2 linked regions of the Homo sapiens genome follow. The protein of the gene in region 1 purifies or fractionates together with the protein of each later gene. This does not show direct contact. Each region holds a gene or a part of one and is shown on either strand. Other genes may lie near its edges. The genes, in order: CAPN8 and CAST.

Region 1 (15,674 bases):
TGGTTTAATGGTTTAGCACCATCCCCCTAGTGCTATCTTAAAAGTGTGTAGCACCTCCCCTACACTTCCTCCTGCTCCCACCATGTAAGATGTGCTTGCTTCACCTTTGTCTTCCACCACGACTGTAAGTTTTCTGAGGCCTCCTCAGAAGCAGAAGCCTGTATAGCCTGCAGAACCATAAGCCAATTAAACAACTTTTCTTTATAAATTACTCAGTTTTAGGTATTTCTTTATAGCAGTGTGAGAATGGACTAATACAGCAAGTTTGTTATATAGCTAAGCTCCTGTCATAGGGATTTGTTGTACAGATTATTTCATCACCCAAGTACTAAGCCTAGTACCAAATAGTTATTCTTTTTTTGTTCCTCTCCCTCCTCCCACCCTCTACCTGCAAGTAGGCTCCAGTGTCTGTTGTTCCCTTCTTTGTGTTCATGAGTTCTCATCACTTAGCTCCCACTTACAAGTGAGAACATGTGGTATTTGGTATTCTTGCATTAGTTTGCTAAGGACAATAGCCTCTAGCTCCATCCACATTTCAGTAAAAGACATAGTCTTGTTCTTTTTTTGACTGCATAGTATTTCAGGGTGTATATGCACCACGTTTTCTTTATCCAATTTGTAATTGATGGGCATTTTGATTGATTCCATGTCTTTGCTATTGTGAATAGTGCTGCAAGAAACATTTGCTTGCATGTATCTTTATGGCAGAATGATTTATATTCCTTTGGGTATATACCCAGTAATGGGATTGCCAGATATAATGATAGCTCTGTTGTTAGGTCTTTGTAGCTCAGGAATTTTTATGGAGGCTTTATCTCATAGGCATGATGGATTATCAACCTAGTCACCAGCTCCTCTCCCCTGCCTGGAAGATGGGGAGTGGGGCTGAAAGTTCCAAGCCCTCCCTTCCTCCCTCCCTCCCTCCCTCCCTCCCTCCCTCCCTCCCTCCCTCCTTTCTTTCTTTCTTTCTTTCTTTCTTTCTTTCTTTCTTTCTTTCTTTCTTTCTTTCTTTCTTTCTTTCTTGTTTCTGAGACAGGGTCTCTCTCTGTTGCCTAGGCTGGAGTACAGTGGCATGAACATGGCCCGCTACAGCCTCAATCTCCTGGGCCCAAGCAATCCTCTTGCCTTGGTTTCCTGAGTAGCTGGGACTACAGGTGTGTACCACTATGTCCAGCTAGTTTATTATTTTTTATTTTTAGTACAGATATCATCTCACTGTGTTGTCCAGGCTGGCGCTGAACTCCTGGGCTGAAACGATCCTTTTACGTTGGCCTCTCAAAGTTCTGGGATTACAGTTGTGAAGCAACTTGCCTGGCTTTTTCCAAGCTTCTAATCATGGCTTGGTCTTTCTTGTGACTAGCCCCCATTCAGGAGCCCACAAGAGTCACCTTATTAGAACAAAAGACTCTTCTATTCCCAGGAAATTCCAGGGATTTAGGAGCTCTGTCAGGAACTAGAGTCAAAGACCAAATATTACAACAAAAGATGCTCCTAGCACATTTATCACCCAGGAAATTACAAAGATTTTAGAAGCTTTGTGCCAGGAACTGAGGACAAAGACCAAAATACTTATTTCTTATTAAATCACAAGATCACAAGAGGTATCCTGGCTGTGTCTTCCCTTCCTCCACACTCATCCCCAGCCTCTGGGACTCACAGAGGAGGTAAACTTGGGAACTCCTCTCCCTACCTGCCCAGCCCCAGTGCCACTACCTGAATTAAGCCATCATCGATTCTTGCTTGTTTCAGAGCAACTGCACCCTAACTATAGAGAAGAAGTCCACATCCATTTAGGATGGCATTCAAGGCCCCCAGTGTCTTTTCCTCTTGTTGTTTGCCTCCTGCCTCACTCCAGGAGTGAGTGATCTAGAATGATCTCATTCTAGATAATTAATATTCTGTTGGCACTGTGTGCAGAGCTGTTCCTTCTTGCCATTTTCTTGCTGTTCCCCTTGACTCCAATGCCCTTTTTACACTGCCTTCTTTCAAAATCATCATCCTTCAAGCACCTTATCCTACAGATCTAACTGGAAGGCCACCTCTTCCATGAAGCCCTCCTTATCACTCATCATCCTCAGAATCAACCACTCTTTCTTTGAGCATTGCCTGGTCTTTCCACTGCATGGAAGTTCTTTGTGGGCAGGCATGGTGTCTATTTGTCTTTCGATTTTTTCTTTTCTTTTCTTTTTTCTTTTTCTTGAGACAAGGTCTTGCTCTGTCACCTAGGCCAGAGTGCAGTGGCGCGATCTCAGCTCTCTGAAACCTCCACCTCCTGGGTTCAAGCAATTCTTCTGCCTCAGTCTCTTGAGTAGCTGGTATTACAGGTGCCTGCCACCATGCCTGGCTAATTTTTTGAAATTTTTATAGAGATGGGGTTTCACCACGTTGCTCAGGCTGGTCTGGAACTGCTGGGCTCAAGTCATCTGCCTGCCTTGTCCTCCCAAAGTGCTGGGATTGCAGGCCTGAACAAATGCGTCTGGCCTCTATTTGTCCTTTTATCCTCCTACGAGCATTGACCCCTGCCCAGTGGAGTGTTGGCACAGAGACGGCTTGCAGATCTGAGTGAGGCTTGCAGATCTGAGTGAGGCACAGAGATGGCTTGCAGATTGGAGGGCTGAGTGAGTCATTGGATTTCTTCCTTTTAGGCATCACATCTCACAGCCTACTGCCCAGGTCGCATCTCCCTGTTGGTATGTGTGGGTAGCGTGCCTTAAAAAGAGCATGGGAATTAAAATCAGAAGACTTGGGCTCAAGTTTGCTACTTGAGTGACCTTGGGGTAGCCTGACAATATGATCTTTCTTACAGACTTGTCGTGAATCTCTAAGCAGCCATGGCAGGAAAGTGCTATGTAGACCTTGCATTCTATTCAAATGTGAGTTTTTGCCACATTACTTAGTCATACCAGGTCAACAGGATCTGTAGGCCTCTAGGGGGCAGTCTCAGCTGGCCTCCCAACTGGCCTTGACTGAGCCCTTTCCTGCCAGGATGAAGGCCTGAGCTGTGACCCCTAAGATGCCATGAGCGATCCTGCAGACCTGGAGAGAGAATGAGCCCACACATCTCAACTCATCCAGGCTTCTGGTTAGGTAGGGTTTGCTCTTACAGCTCTAGAACTGTTTGCATGTGCTGGGCACTTGATATCCTGGGCAGATGGGAAGCCAATCTCTTCCTTAGAGGCCACCTACCAATGCTTGTATCATAGCCAGCCTTCCCCTCTGTAATGCCTTTTTTTCTCCTTTTCAATTTTAAAATTGAGATATAACTCACATAACATAAACATCGCCAAAGTGTACATTTAAAGTGTGATATTTATTTATTTATTTGAGACAGGTCTCGCTTGCTCATCCAGATGAGAGTACAGTGGTGCAACCATAGCCCACGGCAGCCTCAACCTCCTGGGCTCAAGCGATGCTCCCAGCTCAGCTTGACAAAGTGCTGGGATTGCAGGTGTAAGCCACTGTGCCTGGCCTAAAATGTGACTTTTGGTTGTGCAACTATCACCACCATCTCATTCCATAATAATTTCATCACCCCAAAAAAGAAACCTTGTAACTATTAGAGTCAGCCCCACTTCCCAATCCTTGGCAACCACGACTCTGCTTTCTTTCCCTATGGCTTTGCAATTCTAGGCATTTCATAAAACTGGAATTATACAATGTATGGCCTTTTGTCATTCGCTTCTTTTACTTTGCATGTCTTTAAGATCCGTCTATGTTGTAGCATGTAACAGTATCTCGCTCCTTTTATGGACTCCTTTTATGGCTGAATAATATTCCATCATATGCATATACCACATTTTGTTTATCCATTTGTCCATCGATGGGCATTTAGGTTGTTTCCACTTTTTGGCTATTATGAATAATGCTCCTATGGGCATTTATGTACACGTTTTTGTGTAGACATATGCTTTCAATTCTCTTTCAATCCTTGAAGTGGGATGTTACTCAGAGTTACTGTGTAATTCTATGTTTAGCATTTTGAGAAACTGCTGGACTGCTTTCCAAAACAGCGGCACCATTTTACATTCCCACCAGCAATGTATGAGAACTCTGTAATCCTCTTGACACTGGATTCAACCCCTGCTTGCCTTAGCATTCTGAAACTGTCAGGCCCAGGAGAGAGAATTCTGCAGTTAGCTTGCACCCATCTTTTCCCTGAAGTTATAGTTATGCAAGACAACAAGCTTTGCAAACTTTAATCATCTGAAAAGAACACTTGGACCGCTGGGTGCAACCAGAGTGATTTATCTTCCTTTCTAAGGGGATAATACAGCCTTGATCCTTTTGACTGAGAGGAGCCATGTATAGATACAGCTCAGCATCCCCACTTGGCTGGTGTGCACAGAGAAGAGGCAGCATTCACCTGGGCTCTTTGCCGAGAAGTGTTCTTATTAAGGAGGTGCTGCCAGGCGTGTGTCAGTTGTGTCTGCACACCCTCATCAACCTCTTAGTGGATCCTCAGGCTGCCTGGCAAGGAGCTGGCACTGGTTCCTGTGGTGCCTGGGGTGTGAGGCTGGAGAGACATCTGTCCAGGTGGACAGAGACAGTGGATGCAGGCTGCTTCCTCCTGGGTACCTGGCTGGAGAACACATAGATGTTTGCTGTCTGCTCATGAGGCGCTGGGGAGCAGAGACTTCTCAACTCCACTTGTTCTTTTTGTGCCTGGATACAAGGAAGGCTCTATTTTCAGTGGCTCAGACCTGCCAGCCTCGATGAGGAAGGGTTTGTTTGCACAGCATCTGGATGTGGGAGCGAGGTAATTCAGGCAGGTGGGGTAGGAAGGAGATTGCTAACCTCGAAGGAGTTCCCTTGTGCAGAAGGAAAATTACCAGCTGTGCTTATTCTGTGATTGGATGGAGGAAGGGCTTGTTCATTTTAGTCAGTCTAAGGGGAATGTTTCTGGGAGGTGTAGGGGAGAAAGAGGCAAGAAAAACAATCCCATAGGATCCTTGCTAATGAACTAATGACCCTGCCGGAAGGTGTCAGGTCCATTATACCTGGTGCACGTTTATCCACAGCACATCTCATACCTGTAGGTGTATATTCATGCAACAAATATTTATTGAGTCCCTACTATGTTCCAGGAGCTTTCTAGGGTTCAGGAATACAACAATGAGTAAAACAAACAGGGGTAATTGTCCTCGTGGAGATCAGAGCCTTATGGGGTGGAGAGGCATTAATTAAATGATTACAGGAATCGGTGCGGGACAGGGTCTTGCAGGTTGCTATGAGAGCGTATAAGAGGGGAAAATGGCTTAGTATGAGGTGTGGAGTTGTCCAGAAAACCTTTTCTGGGGCACCCAGGTCTACTGGATGAACAGGGCTGGGGTGGGGAGAAGAACATTTCAGGTGGAGGGCACAGAAGGTGTCAAGCCCTGAAGCAGGACAGAACACAACATTCCAGGAATGGAAAGAAAGCCAGGAGGGGAGAATGGAGCAGGAGGAAAGGTAGGCAGGGCCAGCTGCTCAAGGTCTAATGGGCTGTGCAAAATCCCCCTTACTCTTCTCCCAGGAACAGTGGGCAGCCATTGGAGGTTTTAAGCTTGGCAGTGACACAGCCAAGATTTGCAATGACCATTCTGTTTTGACTGAATGGAGTTGTGGTTCTGGTTTTAGGGGTGGTTGGGGCCACCCAAGTGAGACCGTGTCAACTGTGTGGGCCGGTGAAAATGTAACTGTGAACACTAGATGAGCTTAATAGTGGGCAGATGTGGAATCAAAGGGAAAGTGATGTTGAGGGAAGGAAGACGGGGTCCCCAAGGGGGCATGGACCATAGTCTTTCTGAGGCTAGCTTTAGCCTCTGAAGGCCATTTTGGCCTTGAATTTCTTTTTCTTTCTTTCTTTCTTTTTTTTTTTTTCAGGCAGGGTTTCATCACTCTGTCACCCAGGCTGGAGTGGGTGACTCACTGCAGCCTTGACCTGACCTCCTGGGCTCAAGTGATCCTCCTACCTCAGCCTCTTGAGTAGCTGGGACTACAGGCATGCACCACCATGCCCAGCTAATTTTTCTTTTTTTTTTTTTAGAGACTGGGTCTTGTTATGTTGCCCAGGCTGGTCTTGAACTCCTGGGCTCATGCAATCCTCCTGCCTCAGCCTCCCAAAGTGCTGAGATTACAGATCTGAGCCACCATGCCTGGCCTGGCCTTGAGTTTCTGATGAAACCTGGGAAACCACATGTTTTTCTGAACACCTGGGAGCAACCCTTCTTTCTACTTGCTCAGACCTACCCACCTAGCTAAGTGCTTAACACGTGGACTGTCATTGGCTTAGAAGGTCAGAGTTGGAGGCCTCAGAGGTCGGCTGGTCCAGAGCTTCTCAGAGGGCATCCCTGGATCCTTGTATTAGCATCATCTCTGTGGTACTGGTTTAAAAACTGCAGATTCCTGGGTCTTACTTCAGACCTCCTGAATTAGAACTCTTTTTTGGGAGGGATGGGGGTGGAGGATTTGTGGTAGCACCTATTAGGGAATCAGCATTTTGAGCGAGTGCTCCAGGGGATTCTTCTGCACACTATATTTGTTTCCTGCGTCTTCTGTAACAAATGACCACAAATATGGTGGCTTAGAACAACATACATGTATTCTGTCACCGTTCTGGAGGCCAGAAGTCCCAAGGCTGTGAAATCGAGGTGTTGGAAGGCCCACATCCCTCCAGCGGCTCTAGGGGAGAATCCATTCTTGCCCCTTCCAGCTCCTGTGGCTGCTGGTGTTCCCTGGAGTGGGGCAGGATCTCGCTAACCTCTGCCTGCCTCATTTCATCACCTCTCCTTTTTGTCTATTGTCAAATCTTCTTCTGCCTTCCTCTTAGGACACTTGTGTATTTAGGGTCAGGATAATCTTCCCATCTCGAGATCCTTAACTTAGTCATAGCAGCAAAAACCCTTTTCCCAGATAAGGGACTATTTACAGGTTCTCAAGATGAGGACCTGGTATCCTTGGGGGACCATTTTCTAGTGTGCCACAAACACTGAAGTTCAAAAAGCATTGGTGTGGTTGACATCCTTCGGGTAGACCAGATGTAGGAAACTGGAGCCCAGAGAGAAGTGACTAATCCAAGGTCATACAGCTTGTAACTCACTTCTGAGATTGGAATCAAGGCTCCTGATTCCAAGGCCTTTCTGGGAATCCTGGCTTCAAGGAATAGTGATACCTGACATTCACTGAATGTTACTTCATACTGTTCTAAGCAGATGACATGTACTATCTCATCACTCTTCCGAACAACCCTTTGTGGTAGGCTCTCCTATGCTCTTCCAGTTTATAGATAAAAAAACTTAGGAGAAAAGAGGTTAAACAACTTGCCCAACATGACAGAGCAAATTACCGGGGGAGCTGGGATAGAAACCGAGGCAGTCAGAGGCCAAAGCGTTCACTCACAGGTGGAACCTCCTCCAGTCAGGCTTATTCCAAATCTGGCCTGTGAATCACTACTCTCTGGTATTTTTTGCCTTCCTAGGAAATATGCACCAAAACATTTCTGGCAGGAAAGGAGGCCCCTGTAACTACTTGCCTTCTTCCTGCTCAGAGCCATGCCTCCAATTCCTTGATGAATATTTGCTTCAAGCTGCTCAATAAGCCTTCTCATCTCAGTCAATGGGCTTGAAGCAAGGTAAGCAGGTCTTGCAAAGAGGTGTGTGGAGGGAATGCCGGGGTGGGGTCAAGATCCTAATGGATTTCTTAGGCTAATGGCCTGGGATGGGCCCTGGAAAGTTCCCAGACCCCAAATTATTTGCAAAAGGCAGAAGAAGAAGGTGGGGCAGATTGGCCTGGACCTTGGGTACATATTTGTCCCTGGCCATGACTCACTTCCTTCTGGAACAGGGCCTCAGGTGAAATGTTTGTCTGCTCCACCTCCTTTAGTGCCTTATAGCTCCCCTCCCAGTGGAGCAGGTGTCTGAGAGTACAGTGCAGCCCTGCCCTTCTGTCCACCCTACAGAGCCCACGGCCATGGCAGCCCAGGCAGCTGGTGTATCTAGGCAGCGGGCAGCCACTCAAGGTCTTGGCTCCAACCAAAACGCTTTGAAGTACTTGGGCCAGGATTTCAAGACCCTGAGGCAACAGTGCTTGGACTCAGGGGTCCTATTTAAGGACCCTGAGTTCCCAGCATGTCCATCAGCTTTGGGCTACAAGGATCTTGGACCAGGCTCTCCGCAAACTCAAGGCATCATCTGGAAGCGGCCCACGGTAAGGAAGCGGGCTTGCTGTTGAGTGACATACAAGGTGGAGGGGCCTTACATCTGATCAGGAGGAACTGAGGGAGAAGTTGAGGCTGTGGACCCTAAGTGTCTGGATCTCATATTTCAGATCCCTCCACCACCACCTTTTTTAATTTTATTTTTTTGAGATGGAGTCTTGCTCTGTCACCCAGGCTGGAGTGCAATGGCATGATCTCAGCTCACTGCAACCTCTACCTCCTGGGTTTGAGTGATTCTCCTGCCTCAGCCTCCCGAGTAGCTGGGATTACAGGCATGTGCCACCATGTCTGGCTAATTTTGTATTTTTAGTAGAGATGGGGTTTCTCCATGTTGGTCAGGCTGGTCTCAAACTCCCAACCTCAGGTGATCCATCTGCCTCAGCCTTCCAAAGTGCTGGGATAGCAGGCATGAGCCACTGCATCTGGCCCCCCCATCACCTTTTGAACTCTTATTTTTTTTGAGGCAGAGTCTCACTCTGTCACCCAGACTGGAGTGCAGTGGTGCGATCACAGTGCACTGCAACCTCAACCTTCCTGGGCTCAGGTGATTTTCCTACCTTAACCTCCCAAGTAGCTGGGATTATAGGCACGTGCCACCACACCCAGCTAATGTTTACATATTTTTGTAGAGACAGGGTTGTGCTGTGTTGCCCAGGGTGGTCTTGGACTCCTGGGCTTAAGCCATCTGCCCACCTCAGCCTCCCAAAGTGTTAGGATTACAGATGTGAGCCACTACACCCAGCCTGAACTCTTGTTCAGAGATGGTGAGGTATAGAGAGAAGAGCATGGATGAGCTTTGGAACTAGGTAAGATAGATTTGAATCCTAGCTCTGCCTGTGTTGTTTTGGGCCGGTAAACTCTGTGAACCTTAGTTTTCTCATCTGTAAAATGGCATTTACTGGCACCTTATTTTTCAGGGTTGGTATGAGAATTAGAGATAAATCTCAGAGCATAGTGCCCAGAACATAATAGATGCAGAATACGTAGTTGTTATTACTGCATATGGTCCCTGGGCCAGTGCACAATGGAACAACTCAGTGCTGGATGCAATCAGCTGGCAGGTAAATTGTGACAACATCATTGCTGAAAGGTGCACGGTTGCGCAAGGTCATGAATTGACATTATTCCATCAGGGCTGGTGAGTGGAGAGGTGGGAGCTGGGGCTCTGTGGATGCAGACGGAAGGCAGAGGCTCCTGGATGCGGTTACTGATACTACCCAAAGCTCAAGGGCAAGGGATGGAGAACAGTCCTCCCAAAACCTAGACCCATGACCTATCACTATGTGACCCTTGTCAAGTGATTCCTCAGGGATGAGAACCTCTCCCATACAGAGTGGTTGTGAGAATTGAGCTCATCCATACAAAGTGCTCTGTTCAACAGAGCTCATAACAACGTCTCAGGAGAGGGGCTATGAAATGACCTGGGCACCTTTTGTCTTCTAAACCATGATAGGGAAATTAAGTCAGGGTTCCTATTTTCTTGGCAGTGGTTGAAACAGGAAGACAAAGGGAGAGTACTTCTTCTAAAATGGTCAAAATCACTATTTAACTCCAGCTAGCTACCTCTACCCTTTTTACTTTGATCCTGCTGATTTTGCCTAACAGTTTTCATCTCTGAGAATAACTCCTTGGCCATGCTGCCCTCCCGCCCACCGTGGTTCATCTTCCCATTCCCCTCTGAAACCTATAGGGTTACCCTGGTATGTTGATAAAATCCAGATTGGGAGTAATGGTTTTTATTCTAATTTCAAGACAGCCACATTTCATTTCAACAGACAGTTTTTTTGAGCTTCCATTTTGTGCCAGGCATGGGCTCTGCACTGATTGGAAAGGTGGTCAGGGAGAAGCTGAGGAAGGAGCTGTGGTCTCAGCTCTGATGGAAAGTGTGGGGAGACACAGGTGTGAATAAAGGACAGATGCCCAAGGCAGAATGAAGTAAGAACTCTACAGAGGCATAAATGATGGGCCATGGGAACCTGGGTTGTCACAACTGGGTGGTGAAAAGCCTTAGGGAGGGGTACCATTGCAGATCCCAAGGGTCTTGGGGGAGAGGAAGGAGGGGGAGAAAATTTTCCTTTAGAGACCAAAGTCAGGTATCAGTTAACCTTTGCTTAGTTTTTCTCCTTTCTTTGAAATCCTTAGAGACTTTACCTCCTTAACCACATAGCCTGTTCTTCCCCAAACTATGTCTTCACCTGTCCTCGTGGTCTGTGGAAATGCGGTAATTGTAGACTGGATGTGCTGATTTGTGGCTGTCAAAGGAGGAAGTAAAATTCAGAGCATGAGGCAGTAGAACCTGAGTAATGCGGAAGGTGCAATTGAAGGACTCCTATTTGGAGTTTTCAAGTGCGTGTTGAGTAAATAAATGCGTGTCAAAATTTAACCTCTCCTTCCCTAATCATCAGTGAAAAATTATCACACAGCTGCTTTTGGGCAGGCTCATGCTCACATACCACAAGGGTACATTAGAGAAGGCAGACTTATCCTCTAAGATCTTACAGTTATTGAATAGACTCCTGAATCAGTAAAGATTCTGATCCTATCTCTATGAGGAACATGCATTGAATGCTGAGAAAATTAGCCTGATCCTAAATGCTTCATTATTATTTTTTCCTCCCAAGAGGCCTTTCAAGGGTTTGCAAAGAGATCAGGGTATCCAGAAATGTGGTGCATTGTAAGTTCATTTGTTGCATTTACTCATTTATTTTTAAATTGTGGTATGATACACATAACATAAAATTTGCCATCTTAACCCCTTCTAAATGCACAGTTCAGTGGCATTAAGTACATTCCCATTGCTATGCAACCATCACCACCCTCCATCACCAGAATTGTTTTTATCTTGCAAAACAGAAACTAAATACACATTTAAAAACTCCCCATTCATTCTTCCCCGAATTTCGTTTCCTTTCTTTTCTTTTTTCTTTTTCTTTCTTTCTTTTTTTTTGTTTGAGATAGAGTCTTTCTCTGTTGCCCAGGCTGGAGTGCAGTGGCGCGATCTTGGCTCCCTGCAACCTCTGCCTCCCCAGTTCAAGCGATTCTCCTGCCTCAGCCTCCTGAGTAGCTGGGATTACAGGCACCTGCCACCAAGCCTGGCTAATTTTTTGTACTTTTAGTAGAGATCGGGTGTTGCCATGTTGGCCAGGATGGTCTGGAACTCCTGACCTCAAGTGATTCAATCACCTCGGCCTCCCAAAGTGCTGGGATTACAGGTGTGAGCCACTGCGCCTGGCCCTTCTCCCCAGTTTCTGACAACTGTTCTCCTTTCTGTCTCTTTGAATTTGATTATGTTGGGTACCTCATATAAGTGGAATTATACAGTATTTGTCCTTTTGTGACTGGCATAACTCACTTAGCATAATATCCTCAAGATTCATCCATGTTGTGGCATATGTCAAAATTTCCTTCCTTTCAAAGGTTGAATAGTATTCTGTGGTGTCTATAGACCACATTTTGTTTATTCATTTGTCCATTGTTGGTCTTGGGTTGCTTCCACTTTTGGTTATTGTGAATCATGCTGCTACAAACATGGGCATACAAACTTCTCTTTGAGACCCTGCTTCCAGTTCTTTTTGTTATATACCCAAAAGATATGACCCATGGCTGGATCATATGGCAGTTCTACGTTCAAGTTTTTGAGGAACCACAGTGCTGTTTTATATAGTGGTTGCACCATTTTGCATTCCCACCAGCAGTGCACAGGGTTCCTATTTCTCCACATCCTTGCCAATGTTTGTTATTTTCTTTCATTTTTTTTCTTTTTTGAGATGGAGTTTCACTCTTGTCTTGTCACCCAGGCCGGAGTACAATGGTGCGAATTCGGCTCACTGTAACCTCTGCCCCTCGGGTTCAAGTGATTCTCCTGCTTCAGACTCCCGAGTAGCTGGGATTACAGGCACTCGTAACAATGCCCAACAAATTTTTATATTTTTAGTAGAGACAGGGTTTTGCCATGTTGGCCAGGCTGGTCTTGAACTCCTGACCTCAGTTGATCTGCCCACCTTGGCCTCCCAAAGTGCTAGGATTACAGGTGTGAGCCACTGCACTCAGCCATTTTCTGTTTTTTGATAGTAGCCATTCTAATGGGTGTGAGGTGACATTTCATTGTGGTTTTGATTTGCATTTCCCCAAAGATCAGTGATGGTGAGCATCTTTTCATGTGCTTATTGACCATTTGTAGATCATCTTTGGAGAAACATATATCCAAGTTCTTTGCCTTTTTTTTTTTTTTTTTAAGACAGGGTCTCACTCTGTTGCCTAGGCTGGACTGCAGTGGTTCAATCTTGGCTCACTGCAACCTCTGCCTCCTAGAATCAAGTGATTCTCGTGTCCCAGCCTCCCAAGTAACTGTGACCACAGGCTCCTGCCACCAATTGGCTAATTTTTTGTGTTTTTAGTACAGATTGGGTTTTGCCATGTTGGCGAGGCTGGTCTCAAACTCCTGGTCTCAAGTGACCCACCTGCCTCGGCCTCCCAAAATGTTGGGATTACAGGTGTGAGCTATTGTGCCCAGCCCCTTTGCCCATTTTTAATTGTGTCGTTTGCTTTTTTATTTCACTGCTGCTTTTGAGGGTGATTTTGTACTTCTTCAGTGTTGGGGGCTTTAAGTCCACTGCCTAAATGTGACTCATATGATCCTGGTTCCCACACAGACGTTAATTTCTACCGCCCTTTGGGGGAAAGCAGATGAGATGGGTTGAACATGTATGTACACATGTTTTTGTCCTCTCAATAATAAAATAAAGATTGATACTTAGATATTTTCTGAAATCACATCATTTGACATCCTGCCCCTGCTGGGCGTTTCTGCCTATTCATAAGCAATTGAGCAAAGATTTGCTTGAGCTCTTGTCCCAAGGGTTTCAGGACAAGTTTGCCCAGAGGAAGGGCTCAAGGTCAAGCATAGGTTCTCAGGATGAACTTTTGGTTATTCACAATCCTGAGACAATTTAGGGTTGGGCAAGAACAATCCTACCACAAACAGCATGGTTGGCTATGTGAGATCGGGGGTGTTCTTAGCAGGTAGATTTTTGCCTCCTTATTTTCTGGCTTCCCCTCTGTGCTTGGTTAATGCCCAGCCCAGGTCCTGTGGTTTGAGGAATGCCCAGCATGAGCAGGCCCTGGTGCAGTGCAGTCAATGATATTCTTCCCTGAAGTGTCCACTTTTTGGCAATTAAGTGGTTTATTGATCTTAAGGAGAAATACAGCAAGACAGCAATGAAGTGATGTCAGCTGCATAATAAGGACCTAGTTTAAGAGAAATGTCAAGGGGATGAATTGTTGGGAGGTTAGGATAAGGATGAGGGTGACAGGCCTCAGCTTGGAGCTTCCACTCTTTCTTCAGCTGCTACATCTGGAGTGAATCTGGAGTTTTCAGTTTAGCCATGATTTATTGCGTGCTGGTTGTGTTCAGGTGCTGGAGAGGAGTCTTTGTGGAGCTTTGGCTCATCAGGGAGAGACATACGGACAAGTGGACAGCTGGCAGGCCACAGAGTGGTTAAGAGCATGAGCTCGTGCGTCAGGTAGATCAGGTTTCTGGTCCCCTCTGGCCATTTGCTAGCTGAGGAACCATGACTAATGACCCCAAGACTCAGTTTCCTCTTCCATAAAATGGAGATAACAATATTACCCACTTCACTGTTTTTTGGAGGCTTTGGTTATTGGGATGCTTGAATAAGGAAATCTAGCTGTTATTACAAGACAGAATATCCAGAGAGTGAAATAAATAGAAATATGAACACAATGTATGGGAGTTCAGGGGAAGAAGCAGTTAAATTTGACAGTGACATTGGGGCAGGTTAATTACCGGAGACGTTTGAGTTGGGATTGTTGGTGGAAGAGAATCGGGATAGAGACTGAAGAGAAGGCGCAGGTGTGGGCAGAGGTACTGGGTTGTGGCAGTGCATCGGGAGCAAGTGTATTCAGAGGAAGGTGGGAGTCCACTGTGATGGGAAGAGAGTGATAATCACTCACTGTGGGAAACTGACAGACAAAGCTGGAAACATCCAGTGGGGCCAGATCACAGAGGGATGGAGGTGCTGGGTCAAGCAATGTGGCTATACTTGAAGATGATGATGGTGAAGATGGCAGCATCTCTGGGGGTTCTAAAAACCAGAGCTCCTAAAGTGCAAACCAAAGCTATCAGACATGGTTAACGCTCTAGGAGAGCAGTGTGGCCAAACAGCCATCATCACTGAGACAGTGTGGGTTTCAGTCACTTTCTGCCTTGGATTCTTGACTGATACCTGTATTTCCTTAGGCCTGGTCATCAGAGGCTGATCCTAGGTTAGAGTAATTTGTATTTATGGAGTGTTTTGAGATCCTCGCTTGAGTAATAGAAAACAGTGTTACTAAAAAGACATGATTGTTATTAGGAAAGATAAAAAAGGGTTCTAAGTGTGGGTAGGTGGCAGGCTGCCTCTTCACAGAATCCTGCCTCTTTAAAACCTCTCTGACTCCCAATTACTTTGTATCTCTGATCTGTGCTTCAACAGGAACTTAGTAATGGAGAGATTTGGGGTAAGTTCTTTGGGCATCGTAGTGAGATGGAATCTCCTTGCAAAGCTGGGGATTTTCTTTTTCTTTTTCTTTTTTGAGACAGAATTTCACTCCATCACCCAGGCTGGAGTGCGGTGGCGCGATCTTGGCTCACTGCAACCTCCGCCTCCTGGTTTCAAACAATTCTTATGCCTCAGCCTCCTGGGTAGCTGGGATTACAGGTGCACACCACCATGCCTGGCTAGTTTTTGCATTTTTATTTGTAGAGATGGGATTTCACCACGTTGGCTGGGCTGGTCTCAAACTCCTGACCTCAAGTGATCAGCCCACCTTGGCTTCCCAAAGTGCTGGGATTACAGACGTAAGCCACCATGCCCAGCCCAAAGCTGGGGACTTTCTGTGGTCCCTGAAAGATTCATGCAACATATCAGTCATGACATTCCTTGGTGTGTGTGTATGTGTTTTTCTGGGGTGGGGGCATTTTTTGAATTATACTGAGTACCACGTAGTAAAATGGACATTCCATCTACCTACAAACCACTTAGCACCATTCTGTATATTTCACTTGTAATTGTCTGTAGCCTTTGCCAATGACTCTGTCTTCCAACCCAAACTCAACATTTTAGCAGAACTTGGGAGGCCTATTAGATATGAATCTAATGAAAAATGAGCAATGTGACACAGGTAATTGAAGATACAGCTCAGGGAGTTATTTTGGAAGCATCAGCATATTCTGCAGTTAATAGTTGAAGCCATGAGGTCGAATGATGTCACTGAGAGAAGAATGCTTAGGGGTGTTACTGCTGTATGAAATGGGATAATCTCAGAGGGTTGAGGACCAAGAGCCAGGGGTTCCTTGATACTTAGGGGTAAGCACAGTAGAAGAATGCATGAAGGAGACTGAGGAGAAATGCTCAGAGAGGCAAGGAGAAAATCAAGCATGAGTAAGGGTATGGAAGTCAATTTCAGAGAGGGAATAGCC
Region 2 (16,267 bases), on another chromosome or scaffold:
GTGTATTATATATTATTCTCACATCTTCGTATAACACTCAAGGAGATAAACTACATGGGGGTTAAAGAATTCATTTTCCCAACAAACTACAGCAATTTGGTTACAAGGATGACTTATATTTGCAATTCCCATGCTTTAAAACATGTTGAAAGGGTGTGTGTGTGTGTGTGTGTGTGCACGCGTGTCTGTGCTGGTAGCTGTGACGGTTAACAGATAAAACAAGATTAGGACAATGTTGACAATTATTGACACCAATGATTGGTATATGAAGAGGTCATTATACTTATTTATTTATTTATTCATTTATTTATTGAGACGGAGTCTTGCTCTGTCGCCCGGGCTGGAGTGCAGTGGTGCAATCTCGGCTTACTGCAAGCTCCGCCTCGCGGGTTCACGCCATTCTCCTGCCTCAGCCTCCTGAGTAGCTGGAATTACAGGCGCCTGCCACCACGCCCAGCTAATTTTTTTGTATTTTTAGTAGAGATGGGGTTTCACCATCTTGGCCAGGCTGGTCTTGAACTCCTGACCTTGTGATCCATCCGCCTCAGCCTCCCAAAGTGCTGGGATTACAGGCGTGAGCCAACCGCACCCAGCCTCATTATACTCTTCTCTTATTCTGTGTACTAATGCTTAATATATATTAAGGATTAACTGCATAGCTGTAATTCTGAAATCCCTCTGTTTTCACTGAACCCCAAGTGTTCGTTTTTTCTAACATTTTAAGATTTCAGTGGACATGACAAGATGACACTGTAAAGGTACAGGCCCTTTGTGTCCAATTTTCAGAGGTGGCATCTATTGCCTGTCATAGATTAGCTCCTGGGATTCACCTGAAGTAAGGCTGGATGAGTTTTTCTTAAGTCAAAGGGGGTATCATGAGAATTTAAATAGTTGCTTTGTTGCCACAGCAGTTGTCATGAGAATGAACTTGTAGTTTTATCTATGAGAAATGCAAGAGGAGGCCAGGCACAGACCACTGCACGATTTTTTTGTGTCCACCGCACTCTGCACAAAACTGACACACAGCAGGTGGACAATAAACAACTGTGAACATCTTTGAGCTTTACCAAATTTATTCTTATGTTCTATGAGTTTCCTACAACCAAAACAAATTTCATACATTTTTAGGAAACTATAACTTTAGACCTTTTTCTTCCTGAGTTAACTGACTTTTCCATCTGAGGAGATAACTTACATGAACAGTGTTTATTGGATGGAACTGTTCTTGCATTTTTCTTAACTGGAAGACATCTGATATACTTCCCCCTGCCCCCCGCCTTTATGGTGGCTGTAAAGCTTTCTGGGTATGTTTTCATGAAAGGAAAATGAGACAACTCAAAGAACAGAACTTTAGTATCTGTTAATATGATTTTCATCTTAAAAATACCTCAAGGGGGAAAAATGATGTACTACTTAGAGTAGTTTTGTATCTGCTGAGACAATCTAGTCAGAACTAATTACCCACCTATCCACATGGAATCTCACATGACCCCCCACTGTTCCCACCCCCAGAAGGCTATAGCATTCTTTAAAAGGCACCTGTAGAATATAATTAACCTTCTGGGAAGTGCCAAAACTGATTTAAAGAAAGATATTATCAGATGCTACTCTTGGTTTAAAAGGCTTATACACAATGGGGCGCGAACTAATTCAAAGACTGTCAGCTGAAAGAGAAAGGCTGTATTTGACCTCTATGTTTCCATTACCCTAAAGTCTATGCCCTTTTTGCAGGCCCTGTTATTTGCCTTCCTTAGTTCTAAAATTCACTGTGAGCAAGTGATCTGTCCTGCCATGGAAGGCTTGCAACATTCTTCCCAGGCTGGCAGCAATGATGGGGCCTCCCAAATGACTGGGCTCCTTGATCATGCTGTCACTAGGTCTATGGATCTAATTAGGCTAAGAAACACCTTTAATTAACATAGTCTAATAGAATCAACTGATGATTCAGGAATGTGATGACTGGTGTGGGCCAAATTAACCTTCGTTCATGCTTGATCATTACATAGCTCATAGATGTTCTTCAAATTTAGCTCTGCAGAGTTGTGTGGTGTGTGTGTGTGTGTGTGTGTTTACTACAACCACATTTTTCAGAAGATAAAGTCAATAGGATTGATGGCATTCAATGTGGAAATATACATTGCAACGTTTCACTGACTAGCTTTATAGGTGGCATGCTGTTAAACGAACACATCTGAGACATGTCTTTTAATTATTTCATTTTATTCTGCCTAAATTTTGAAAGTTAGATCATTTATAACCTTTTCAGTACTTAAAGGATTCCACAAAGATATTTTAATTATAGGATTTACCTGAAGTATTCTGAGATGTCTGTGTATATACCGATATCTGTGTTTATATCTGTAGATATATATGCATATAAATCTGTCTATATATGTATTATACATGCATGTGTACATACAGACAGACATCTGTATTTATATCTGTAGATACATACACACATAAATCTAGATGTCTACATATGTATTATACATGCATGTGTGTATTATATATAAATATGCACATATATGTATATTGGATTGTATATGTTTGTATGTGTGTATGTATATGTGTGTGTGTGTGTGTATGTGTGTGTGTGTGTGTTATAAACTGGCTCCATGGACCTTTGGGGGATTTATGGGTGGTCTTTTGGAAATCTCTGAACTCCCTGAAGCTATATTGGAAACTGCATTTTGTGTATGTTTGTATGTATTTTGTTGTGGGAAAGCAGTCCATAAATCCCATTTGATTCTCAAAATTGTCTGTGACCACCCACCTATCACCAAAGGAAAAAAAGAAAGTTTAGGAGTCCATGGTCTAGCGCTATACTGTCCATTACTATAGCCCCTAGCTGCTTGTGGCTACTGAACACTCTTGAAATGTGGCAAGTGTGAATTGAGATGTGCTGTTAATGTAAATATACATTGGATTTTGAAGAATTAGTATAAAAAAGAATGTAAAATATCTCAATGGCTTATACACTGATTACATGATGAAATAATAATATGTGGGATATAGTAGGTTAAGTAAAATATATCAATTAGCACAAATTTCACCTGCTTTTTGTTGTGATGTTGTTGTTAAAGTGGCTCCTTGGAAATCTGAAATTGCAGACGTGGCTCACATTATGTTTCTATTGAATAGCACTGGTTTGGGCAAAGCTAAAGCTTGATCACAGGCATGTAGCTGGTTCTAGGAAGTTCCTACTAGCAAAAAGTTTTCATGGTAGTACCAAAATGGGATTCTAAGAGAGGTTTTAGCAAAAACATCAGACTGTGACTAAACAAAACAGGGTTAAAAGCATAGATTCAAACTACTTTCATCCAAGTAACCCAGCAGAGTTTCCTTGAGAGAATCATGAGTCTGGAAGGAGAATTTTGATGTCAACTCTGAACTACTGCTATCCATATTTGCAGATAAGGTACATGGTACATTTTGATAAGAACCTTAGGCCAATAATGACTCAAAGCAAATTGATGTGGTTTGTTCTTACCACATCAATCAAATGCTACATGTAAAAGCCCAGGAAATGTACTGGAAAACATTCATGAAGAAGTATCTCAAGGGAAATTGGAATTCCAAATTCTTAAAAGTATATGTGTATGACATTTTGACTTTTAAATCTAATTAGTCCTCACCAATACTTATGTAGTGCATATAATTTCTATTTTACACATGTGAAAACAGGTTGAAAAGGTTGACTTATTTCCATTTGAGAAAAACTCTTTGTTCTCCACAGTGTACATGGAGGCTTTAAAAAGCACCTGTAGGCCCAGTGCAGTGGCTCATGCCTGTAATCCAACATTTTGGGAGGCTGAGGTGGGAGGATTGCTTGAGACCAGGAGTTTTAGACTAGCCTGGGCAACATAGTGAGAGAGACCCTGTACAGTATATTGTATGTGTGTGTGTGTGTGCATATATATATATATTTACACATATATATGCACACACATATATATGCACACACACATATATTTACATATATATGCACACACATATATTTACATATATGTGTAAATATATATATGCACACACACTGTAAATATACACACATACACACTATACATATATACTATTTATATAGAAACGGAGAATAAAAAATAATCTAAAAAAAAACACTACTTGTGGGATATAATTCTGCCTGGCACATAATAGATGATCAATAAATGTCCATTGTCTGATAAGTAACAGTTTCTTTCTTGATTCTTATACAGGGTAGCTAGCTCCAAAGAATGTCTGATTCCAACATCTTTGCTTTTTCCAATACCACATGCCAAGAGAGAAAAAGACATACCTAATTTTTTAATTCTCACCATAAATCAATGAGACATAAACATTTTGGCTCTCACTGTCAACAAAACTCCTGTGTGTGATTTTTTTTTTTTTTTTTGGAAAGCAATCTAATGTTAAATCATGCTTCCTGGTTCCAAAACACTAGAAGTGCCAGCTTGACTGGATATTACACCTAATTGGCAGGACAAACATTCAATGCACCAAACAAATGGAATGTTCTTGTCCCTCATCCAAAGTAATAAAGTGCAGAGAAGCTCGCTTTTGTGCGCGCTGTCTCTCTCTCCCTCCCTCTCTCACTTTCTCGCTTTCTTTCCTCCACCCCTCCACCGCTCTCTCCAAGGGTCTTGGTCTCAGATCTCAGTTGCTTCTGCCCCTTGATGTTTGGGATTTTCTCCTTGCCTCACATTGCAGCTGCCTCTCCTTTGCGTCGGCGAATGTACGTCCAACAATCGCCCTCTAAAAGTTTTGAACTTTACTTAGGGGTTAAAAAAGAACTCTAGATCAAAGCTCTTGCGAGCTGCGTCCTAGTGCATTCAGGAATCCACCTCCTAGACAGAATTCCTCCAGCAACAATTCCAGTTCCATCCCACTTGTGAGCGCCAGCAGAGCATAGTGCTTGACATCGGGGCGAGAGAGGTGCATGCGCCGCGCACGCTCGGGCGCGCTCATACATACCACAAGAGGGTGAGTCCCCTGCCTCTCCCCGAGCCTAACCTGAAGGTCTGCGAGGAGGTCGCACCCGGTCCGCACCCCTTCCCCGCCAAACCCCGGACAACGCTTCATCCGCACGCCCAGAAGGGCAAAGCAAACACACTCCCTTCCAACACACTCCCTTCCGGGTCCTGCCCAGGCACAACCGCTCCTATTTACCGTCTTGTACCACCAGCTGGCGAATGCCATGGCAACAACCGGCTGGCTCCGATCCGCACGGCGGGGGAGCCGGCGAGGGCGCGGGGTGTTGCGTTGGAGGCGCCGGGCTCACACTCCGCTTGGCCGGGACCGGGCTGGCACTGAGCTCCGCACATCCCAAGGCGGCTGCCAGGTGGGCAGAACCCTGGGGGTGGGGCCCGGCGCAGGCCCCGCCCCTCCTCGCCCGCCCAATTTGGCTCGAGGCTGGTTAGGGAAGAGGCTCTGCGTCTCCAGGCAGCCACGCCCTGCGGCCCGGCCTTAGCGCGGAAGACTACATCCCGCTGTCCAGTGAAACCACCCCACTCACTCGGGGGTCCTGAGTGAACCTCATTCCCCGTTCATCCTCATCCTCATTCACCCACGTCTTACCAGCCAACTTTTCTTGACGCGTCCCCCCCTCCACTCTACCCGGCCAACGCCACGCCCAGCGCACTGGACCCGGCCGGGGAACCGAAGCCACCTGCAGCCACCTGCCTGGCAGCGGCCAAGCCCCTAGCCCTCTCCCTGCCCCGCGGGGGCGCCGGGGACTGCAGACCCGCCAGCCTGGCAACGCCCAGGGAGGGCGGCCACAGCTCCGGGACCCGGTACCCCATCGCCCAGCCCCGCGACGCCGACAGGAGCGCCACTCACCTCATGGGTGCGGCGGGCGGCGGCTGCTCGCCGGGGCCGCGGGGAGGCGGCGGGCTTCTGGCCGGGCTGGGACATGGCGAGGCCGCTGCGGCCGCTGCCTCCCGGAATGCGCCGCGGAGAGTGGCGGGGAGGCCTGGCGGGGAGTCCTGCCAGGGAGAGAGGGAGGGAGGGAGGGAGCGGAGGGCCCGGGAGCGGGCGATGAAACAGCTTTTCCGACCCCACCCCAGGTCTGCGCCGGGGTTCCCCTAGCCCCGATGGGCCCTCCCCTTCCTGCCCGCGGAGGGACCCGGGCTCCTGCCCTGTAACTTAACACCCTCCGCCCCGGTCCTCACCCGGTGACCCGCCCCGGCCCCAGCACTGCTCTGGTCCCGGTTGGTCAGAAAGAAGGGGTTGGAGGTTGCAGCGTTCCTCCTTCGATGCCCAGATCTAGCTTGCAGTTGTGCAACGAGAGAGCGGGACCCGGGCGTGGCCAGTCTACGCTTCGACCCTCCTCCCAACAATCCGGAGAAGTAGATACTCTTTCTACATTCTGCTCCGCTTTAGCTGCGAGAGTTTACCAACTCAAATCTGGCCCAAGCCTGGACAGTCTAGATAAGGAAGCGGATCACAAAAACAAATTGGTCTGTGTGTGTGTGCGTGCGTGCACGCGCCTGTGTATGTTTTATATGATTTTACTTTGTTTTTTGGCAGTTTCGAATTTTAATAAACTTTTATGGGGAGGAGAACATAGGTTCCAATGCAAAACGGAGAACAGTCCCAAATTTAAACCCTTATAGTCTTTCTAGAGTCTGGCGAGTTTTGTTTCTGAAGCTAGATTGCTTTCTTCTTGGGCTCATCTTAAACAGCGCTTCCTGGTTTGGGGCTGGAAGTGAAATTTAACAAGCCCTACGTGCTTATGTGAGAAACTGTCAGCCTGCAGTTGCTGCTGGTTCACAATCAGGCCTGACAGAAAACCTGTTTGTTACCCTGCAGTAGCATCATCATTCTGGGACTTGGGGTCACCGCTTTCTGCAGCGTTGGGGTTTAGACAGTTGAAGAGAGAGAAGGCAGAGCCTTTTTTTTTTTTTTTTTTTTTTTTCTGGAGAGGCAGTTTCGCTCTGTCTGGAGTGCAGTGGCGCGATCTCTGCTCGCTGCAATCTCCGCCTCCCAGGTTCAAGCGATTCTCCTGCCTCAGTCTCCTAAGTACTTGGGACTACAGGCGCGTTGTCACACCCAGCTTTTTTTTTTTTTTTTTTTTTTTAATGGTAGAGACGGGGTTTCACCACGTTGGTCAGACTGGTCTCGAACAACACCTGACCTCAAGTGATCTGCCCAGTGCTGCCTCCCAAAGTGCTAGGATTACAGGCGTGAGCCACTACAGCCGGCCAGAAGGCAGATTTTAAGGAGAGATTTGTCATGCTATATGGAGCCTGGCAGAACAGAATTCTGGTTTCCTTTGTACCTCCTCATTTTAGGAATTCTGACTTCTTCTTCAAAGGATAGGCTAGCAGCATTCTTAATTTTGAGGGAGGGGATGCGGGGAGAAGAGGATTTAAATGCATTTCCTCTTAAAGTGTCGTACTTACTGTCTGTGTATCTAGTATTTCAACAAACAGGTAGCACTGCAGGAATTTATACATAAAAATGAAACAACTTAGATATTGGGACTATGTCCACTCAGGAAAAACAAATGATTGTTGGCATCGGTTACATTCAGAAAGGAGGGAAACTATGCCATAAGTCTGAAAACAAGATCTTCTTATGATTGTGACCACACCACTACAGTAATTTAAACAAACACAAAAGCTGTAGGGGTGAGGTGACAGGCAGCTCCTCCTTCCTGGCCTCCACCCCAGGAACTAGAATGATTTTCTTACTGGGGAGCCTACATATCCCAGAATCAAGGTTTTAGATCCCTGGAGTACTTTATTCAAACTCTGGAATGGTTTCCAGTGACTTGGTGGCATTAGAGTTTGAGGTTATTTTCCAACAGAGTATTTAAAAATTGAGTTTAAACCAGTTATATATTTCTTGAGAGTATTCTATGTAAAACATTGTGAAAGGACTAGTAGAAGGAGAGATATAGAGATTAAAAAGATACATTGCCTGTCCTCCAGGGACTGACAGTTTAGCTGAAGTTATATGGCATTTGTAACACATGATGGTGTAGGGATATTGAAAGACCTAACAGTGTGTGAGTAAGTACAAAGGTGTTTTGGGAGTTTGGGGTTCCACAGGGGTTGTATCAACAATAGGAGGGAAAGGAGGAAGGAGACATGAGCAGGCTGGCTAGCTGGTGAGGTGTGAACAGAAGGAGAAGGGGTGGGGGCACCTGACGAGATAAAGAGGAACCCACTCACCTGGCTGGAGCGGAGGGTCTATGTAATGGAGTAAGTAATCAATCTATTCACCAGCTCATTGTTTGTGGAGCAGCTACACTAATACATGATATATTAGGTATCAAAATCTATAAGAGGTAATAACCCTAACCTTCAGGCTTAGCTTAAAAGTCAGAACTCACATAAGCAGAACAATTGCTAAACAATGCATTAATGACTATGAGTACAGAAGAATTTCAAAGAAGCTGAAGACCCTGATGTTTTGCTTTTCCTTGTAGCCAGTGAAGAATTATTGGAACTTTGATATCATGGACCAGCATTTACTAATTTGGGGAAGCTCCTTTTAAATATAGATGGTGCGGTGGCTCATGCCTGTAATCCTAGCACTTTGGGAGACTGAGGTGGGCAGAGTGCCTGAGCTCAGGAGTTCGAGACCAGCCTGGGCAACACGACGAAACCCCGTCTCTACTAAAAATACAAAAAACTAGCTGGGCATGGTGGCGCGCACCTGTAATCCCAGCTACTCAGGAGGCCGAGGCACAAGAATCGCCTGAACAAGGGAGGCAGAGGTTGCAGTGAGCCAAGATTGTCCCATTGCACTCCAGCCTGGGCGACAGAGTGAGACTCTGTCTCAAGAAAAACAAAAACTAAATATAAATAAATAAATGGCTTTTGCCACATTACTGTCTGCACATAGGTAATCATTTATTCCTTTATTTACTCAGTAACAGATGCCTGCTATGGGGAGGTACTGTAGACCTCTTACACTAAAGGACTTTACAATTAGAAGAGACAGACAAGTAAATACAGGCATACCTCATTTTATTGCTCTTTGCTTTATTGCATTTCACAGATACTGTGTTTTTTACAAAATGAAGGCTTGTGGCAACCGTGCCTCGAGCATGTCTGTCAGCACCATTTTTCCAACAGCATGTGTGTTCACCTCATGTCTACCCACATTTTGGTAATTCTTGCAACACCTCAACCTTTTTCATTATATCTGTTACGTGATATGTGATCAGAGATCTTTGATGTTGCTATTGTAATTATTTTGGGGCACCACATAGTGCACCCATAGAAGACAGAGAATTTAATTGATAAATGTTGTGTGTGTTTTGACTGCTCCACCAACTGGCTGTTCTACCTAGGAATCGATTTGCATATAAATATATACTTGAAAGAGAATCCTATAAAGAAATAAAAAACAGAGCCAAAGAAACATCCAGGTAGATACCACATCGCATTTGCTGGAGATTGCCATATTTTGGCAATACATCATAGTGGGTAAAGCATAAGAGTTTTAGATCCACACAACTATGTTTAAATCCCAGCTCTGCCACTTATGGACTGCATACCTCAAGCAAATTACTTAATCACTTTGAATATCAGTTCCCTAACCTGTTACCTGTGGATGATAAAGCTGAGTACCTACATCCTAGGGTTATTCTGATGATGGAATAAGGCAGTGTATTAAAGCATTTGGCACAGTGCCTCATGTATGATAATTGTGCAAATAAATGCTGGTTGCAATTATTAAATTGCATTTATTATTAATAGTTAAAAATTTCAAAACCCCTGAATGTTCTTTGGACAGGGGCAAAGCAGTTTTTGTTGGATCCCCAGTAAGAAGCAACCTCCTGTCCAATCAATGAATGTTATAGATCTGTTTCCATTCAACCAGCATTCCAGACATTCTGTAGACCATAAAATGAGCCACAGCTGAGCAGTACCCTAGGAAAGCTCTAATCCAGACCCACATACCTGAGCTGGCAGCCAGAATTCACGCTGATGTACTCATTCCCAATAATGGGTGCTTTTTCCATTTTTCCATTTCCTTTTTTTTTTCTTTTTGGTTTGCTTCTTTTGTGTATGTGCTGATAGAGTGGCTGGTTATTTGAAATAACTTTAACATTTGTTAGGCAACAAGAAACCAAATTTGGGATGATGTGTGCATGGTAATGAACTTACTAAACCCAAAGTACTCCCGTGTTCCTGTCCTGGGATAGGTGCAAGTTCGTCATGGCCCCTCAGATCTGGAGGCAACACAGAAAACTGAGTCACAAAATTACATTTTTTTTTTTCAGATGGACTCTCGCTCTGTTGTCCAGGCTGGAGTGCAGTGGCATGATCTCGGCTCACCGCAACCTCCACCTCCTGGGTTCAAGTGATTCTCCTGCCTCTCAGCCTCCTGAGTAGCTGGGATTACAGGTGCCCACCACCACGGTCATCTAATTTTTGTATTTTTAGTAGAGATGAGGTTTTGCCATGTTGGCCAGGCTGGTCTCGAACTCCTGACCTCATGTGATCCACTCGCCTCGGCCTCCCAAAGTGCTAGGATTACAGGTGTGAGCCACCGTGCCTGGCCTACAAAATTACATTTTCAGACTAGCAAGTGTATCTCTGGAAATCAAGTTATATTTTTGAAATCTTGCCACTTTCCACTAACTTTCATTTTTCTCCCACTCACAAACACCATCTTATGGAATTAATTTTCTATATAGAAATTTTTGCAGCCCAAATATCTGTACAGCCAACTGCTTGCTTCAAATATTTACCAAAGCTAGATTAATTTTTTAATGTGCTATTTCTGTCTGGAATATATCTAGACCAAGTCATTCATAGGAATCAATTTTTATTATAAGAATTATCATATTCTTGTCATATTGAAGATTTTGAATCAATTATCTTTTCCTTTCTATATATCCTAACCTACTCCCTCCCACTCAAAAAATTGTCATCTAAATTTTCCCAGGCCTAGACTTCATTTCCTCCCTCAGCCTGTCTTTTGTCCATTAATAGGTATTTCTTGTAGCCTATCCAGAAGGCATGTAGATTGGGACGATACACTGAGCAAACCACATTTCTTCACTATAGCAAAAAAGAAACCACAGTTGGTCATCATGGTGACTCACCCCAGGCTTCTACCGCCACACCCAAACCACACAATACTGCAAACTCTTTGGTTAGATTTAAGGCAGAAAATAAAGCCATCCTGCAAAGCAAGATTTTTATGTTCCAAGGTACGCCTAAGGTCACCTCTCTTTGGTGTTTGATTATAAAATAGTCTTGATCCTTCTTGTTGCAGATCACTTCACATTACATATTTATTGGTGTCAGGTTTGTTTTCATTTTTGTTTCTTTCCCTGCATTTGTTTCCAGCTCAGATTATTGTATAAAGAAATGTGCCATTTCTAAGAGGTTCTTCAATTGCCTGCAAGCCACAGTGTTTTTTTTTAATTAAGAAAAAGTGTCTCTTTGGATTTAATACTCAAAGTCATTTGGGGCACATGCAGAATCTTGATTCCTTTGAATCAATATATAAGAATTCACTAGTTTCTAGAAAGAAGAGTTAAGAGCATGCACCAGGGGCCATTTGGAATATCTGCCCGGCTCACCCCTGTTCCTCCTTTGGAGTAGAATTCCAGATCCCATCATGGCTCCCCATTGCTCTATCCCTCTTCTCCACAGCCCACAGTTGACTGGACCAATGGTAGACCTGACTTGAACTGACCCAAACGGGCAGGTTTTCTTTCCTCATTGGGAGGTGGGGACTGAGTAATGAAATTAAGATGAAGATAGAGGAAAAAACTTTCTGGGTGCTAAAAACCGTAACGTGAAGCATGTAGACCTGGGCTTCACTGTGGAAACTGAGGACCCGGAAAGTCAGCCCGCACAGGAAGAAAGAACAGGCCTGCCAGGGAAGCAGAGATAGGAGGAGACAGAAGAGGGCTGAGCTTCCTTACGACCTTCCACTTAATGAGCTGCACTCTCTAGTGAGGCCCAGTTGCACTCAAAAGGCTTTGGTTCTGGGACGTACGCTATAGCCTTCAAAATAATCTCCCCTCATTTTTGTTTTAACAGTACAAGTTGCTTTTTCTGTTATTTGTTAACCAAGAGTCTCAACCAATTCAGAAACTAAGCAGAATATGCATAGAGTATACAAATTGTTCTTAAGTAAAGTTCTCAGTAATTTTTCCAAACTTTTTTTCCCCGTGGTCCTCAGTAAGAAATACATTTTACATTGCAACTAGTACATATAAATGCACATGATTTGAACATGAAGTTTCATGGAACAATTCTTCATTATCTATGATCAGGTAAAAACAATGAATAATGTGAACTATGTTTTATTCATCTGTAAACACAAAGTGGAAACAAATCCAAAACAAACAATAAAAACTAAAAATTAGGAAATATTTTACTTAATGCTCCAGCTATCTTTGCCTGTTCATGTTTATTACAGTCTGAGACACATGAAGATAATGCTACCTGCATTTCTGGTGCACTGTTCAGCCAGATTTTTTTTGTTGTTTTAATTGGCTGAAGATTGAAAATCCCGATTTACACAAATAGGCTCTTGAGAATGTTAACAGTGGCAGCATATTCTGATATTCAACTTCTGTTCTACTTTATTCAAATTTCTTTTTTAAACTGTTGATGATGACTCACTAAATGTCATAACCAACTATTGTGCCCACAGTTTGAAAAACAGTAAGCCAGAATATATTGTTAAATTGCCTACTACTAAGATGAGCTAAGATAAGGCAAATGCATTGCAAGTATCTGCAGTAGATCCTTATTTGAGCTCAGACATCTGTCCTTTTTTAAAGCTCTCTAGAGGGGAATCCCAGTTTTTCATTCACTACTGCAGATCATTTGTAACAATTCTCTTTATGTGGAGAGCCATCTGCATTTGACTGCGGACTGCCATTCAAATCCATTTCTTCTTGTCCAGTTTTCAGAGAAGATAAAGAATAGGTACTCTAAAGCTTCTCTTTGCCTGGGTCTATCCTTCTCCCTGCCTTTTCCCTCTTATCCACAGAAAGCCAGCTTCCCAGCCACACTGGTCTCCCTACTGGACCATGCATGACCCGTGCATGCACTTTCCCTTTCCTGCATTTTTCCATGTTGCTGTTCTTCCGAGAGACATCTCCCATCTGGTTATCTAAATCCTGCACATTCTTCAAGTAGCAGGACATGTTTACCCACCATCAGGTCTTGCTCATCACTCTGCCCCACATCTTTTTTGTCCTTTTCTGATCACCTATAGGTCTTGAAAGGTTTCTATTCCATATTTATTGACACAGAAAAATATTCAGTATCCTCTTAGAAGGACAATGTATTTATAAAATAGCATGTACATTGTAGAGCTAAAGATAGAGCTATACATCAAGAAATTAACTAGATGTGAGCATTTGGGTAATTCTATTTTGGTTTTATTTTCCCAGTTTATGTTTTCTTAATGTTTCTTATATTTCTTAATGGTTCTTGCAATAAACACATAGTATACAATAAAAATAATAAAAGGAAAGTCTTAACTTTTGAGCTAGCTATGAAGGTCTTTTATCATGTGAGCCCTCCCCAAATTTAACACAAATATACATGGTCTTTATTTGTTCTCTTCTTGTGTGCTCAGCTTCCACTTCCAAATGTATTGCAATATTCTTGAAAATCCAGATGCCCCTTTTTTGTTTTTTCTTACTTTTCATTTTCCAATTTTGATATAACAGCAAGTTATTAATGAACTTACTCTTGATAACATCTGAGTGTAGTCAAGTAAAAGCTTATGCTGTGTATGTCTAGAAGATATTTGTGTTATATTTTACTTCCTTCAAACCACTGAAAACTCTGCAAATATTACTTCTCAGATTAAAATATAACATCGGAGAAAAAGAGAGTGCTTTGTTTTTGAAACTGGTAATATACAGTAGCTATGCACACTACACGTGAGGTTTTTTTGCTTTCATTATGTACTCCACAGTTTGGTTTTCTTAAGAAAAAGATATAGGAAGCATAAATGAGGAAAGTAGTGAAAGTGAAAGAAAGGTAAGAAAAAGAATTGAAAAAAGAAAATGGGCCGGGTGCGGTGGCTCACATCTGTAATCCCAGCACTTTGGGAGGCTGAGGCAGACAAATCAAAAGGTCAGGAGTTTGAGACCAGCTTGGCCAATATGGTGAAATCCTGTCTCTACTAAAAATACAAAAAAATTTAGCCAGGCATGGTGGTGCACACCTGTAATCCCAGCTACTTGGGAGGCTGAGGCAGGATAATTCCTTGAATCCGGGAGGCGCAGGTTGCAGTGAGCTGAGATCGCACCACTGCACTCCAGCTGGGCAACAGAGTGAGACTCCGTCTCAAAAAAAAAAAAAAAGAAAAGAAAAGAAAACGATAAGGAGAAAGGAGAGATACAAGGGAAGAGAAAAGAGAGAGGGGAAGAAGAAGAAAAAGGAAAAAAGGATAGTTAAGCAACAAGAATGAAAAAGGGGAAATTAAGTAGTATTTTTAAGGGGAAACAACAAATATTAGACTAAAACTACCACTAGAAAAATACAGAATAAGACTCATAGTTATTTATTTATTTATTTTGCTTTTCAGTCTTTCAAATACTTAAAGATAATTATTTTGGCCCCCAAATTCTTTTTTCTTTTCTTTCTAAAGAAGCCAAAATGAAATATTCCTTCGTCTTCTAAATATTGGGTTAAGATACAAGATAAAGATCTGAGAGAAAAGAAGAAAAAGAAAAGAGCTTTTAAATAATTTTTATTTCATCTATGATTTACCTTTTGCTTACTCTAATCTAGGACTTTATATGCATTTTATAAACCTTCACAGCAATGTTACGAGGTTTTATTTGTACCCTTATTTTACAGAGAAGGAGATGGGTGTTTTAAGAAGGTAAGACTTCATCCACAGCTGGGAGGTGGCAGAGCCAGATTCCAAAGCCAGGTCTACTAACTACACTTCCTCTCCAAATTGTTGCCCTTTCTGGAGCAACAACTCAATTGTTCTCTTTTAATCATCTGTTTTTCTAGGTCTCCCAGAACTCTCTAGATGAGACAGCATTTATTTATTATGAATTTATTATGCAGTTGACTTTGAGGAAAAAAATGTGATTAAAAACACATGTCTGGCATAACTTCAATACCAGGTGGGGTCTAGCCCTGCCCCAAGGCAATGAATCTGGACTGGTTTGCCTACTCAGACACAGAGACTCCCTGTGAGGTCTGATCCCACCCTGAGGATATAGGATAACTGTGGCACAGAGTAGATGTGTCCCTGGAGCCTGTGAGAAAATATGAAGGCAATCACTAAACTATGGAATAACTGCCATTAATTTGGGAGATAATGGCTGTGGGAAACTCAGGCTCAACAGGGACCCTGATGGGTCTCAAGGATTAGGAGACATCCTTCAAGCACTGTGCTCAAGCCAAACCAGTTCCTCACAGCAGGTGGGTAAGAGGGTGTGGTCTCAGTTGGTGCCTAGCTACCTCTCCCAAACCTGTTGTCTTGCAGAAAGGGATTATGGTTCCCGTGCAGTCTGTGCCCCTTCTGAAGTATGCAGTAGTCAGCCTCTGACTGTTGGAGTCCCTGTGACCACCAATTTCTGTCATGAGCTCTGTTTTTCCTGGGATACATCAGATATCACATCTTATATTTTGCATTGTGTCATTTTAATATAGGCAAGATGATCCCATGTGCAAATAACACATCCAAGGGAAATCTTAAAATGAACATATGGCACATATCTTACTCCCTGAGTGGGTTAGGCCAAATGCTGTGTGTCAGGAGGCTCTGTGACACAGAGCATTTAAGTGGAGGCTTCACAGAGGAGTCACCTAAACATAGGGTTTCCTCTCTGTAGGTGTGCTGTGAGCTGATTGGATGAGTGGCTAAATGTATAATTAGGTGCTGTGGGTTACTCAGCTAGTTTTTCTGTTTATGTTCCTCCTCCAGAGTTTTAATTGAGCACTATTTAGTACTTAGGCTAAAATGGTATTACACCAATTATCTTTGTTTAAAAAAATCCCCATGACCCATCAATTCTACATTTTTCCCTAACGTGTGTTATTTTTATACCATGAGTATTCTAATTATAGACTCCATGTAGGAAATCATTTGTAATTATCAAACAAAGCAAAGCCAATTATTACAACCTAGGTTGGAAGATACCTAAGGGTTGGTCTGGACCTCGTTTGCTATGAACCATCTCCTTAGAACCATCCCTGGGAGGTCCTCTGACGCTGCCCTAGTGGCCACTGCAGGAAGATCTGCTCTGGTGAAAAGCAGGGGTTTTGGATTCAATTGCATATGGATTTGAATCCCAGTTGTGGTCCTTAGC

The links.
Region 2: the proteins of CAPN8 (region 1) and CAST purify together in Homo sapiens (affinity purification with mass spectrometry; 2 studies listed by BioGRID and IntAct, with this or other methods). This does not show direct contact.

Annotation. Positions count from the first base shown.
Region 1 is NC_000001.11:223,657,920-223,673,593, reverse strand, and holds the start of CAPN8 (calpain-8), read left to right. Parts: upstream 1-7,892; 5' UTR 7,893-7,947; coding exon 7,948-8,184; intron 8,185-15,674. UniProt on the Homo sapiens protein: Calcium-regulated non-lysosomal thiol-protease. Involved in membrane trafficking in the gastric surface mucus cells (pit cells) and may involve the membrane trafficking of mucus cells via interactions with coat protein.
Region 2 is NC_000005.10:96,652,060-96,668,326, reverse strand, and holds the start of CAST (calpastatin), read right to left. Parts: upstream 5,952-16,267; 5' UTR 5,905-5,951; coding exon 5,830-5,904; intron 5,303-5,829; exon of another isoform or gene 5,191-5,302; coding exon of another isoform or gene 5,161-5,190; intron 1-5,160.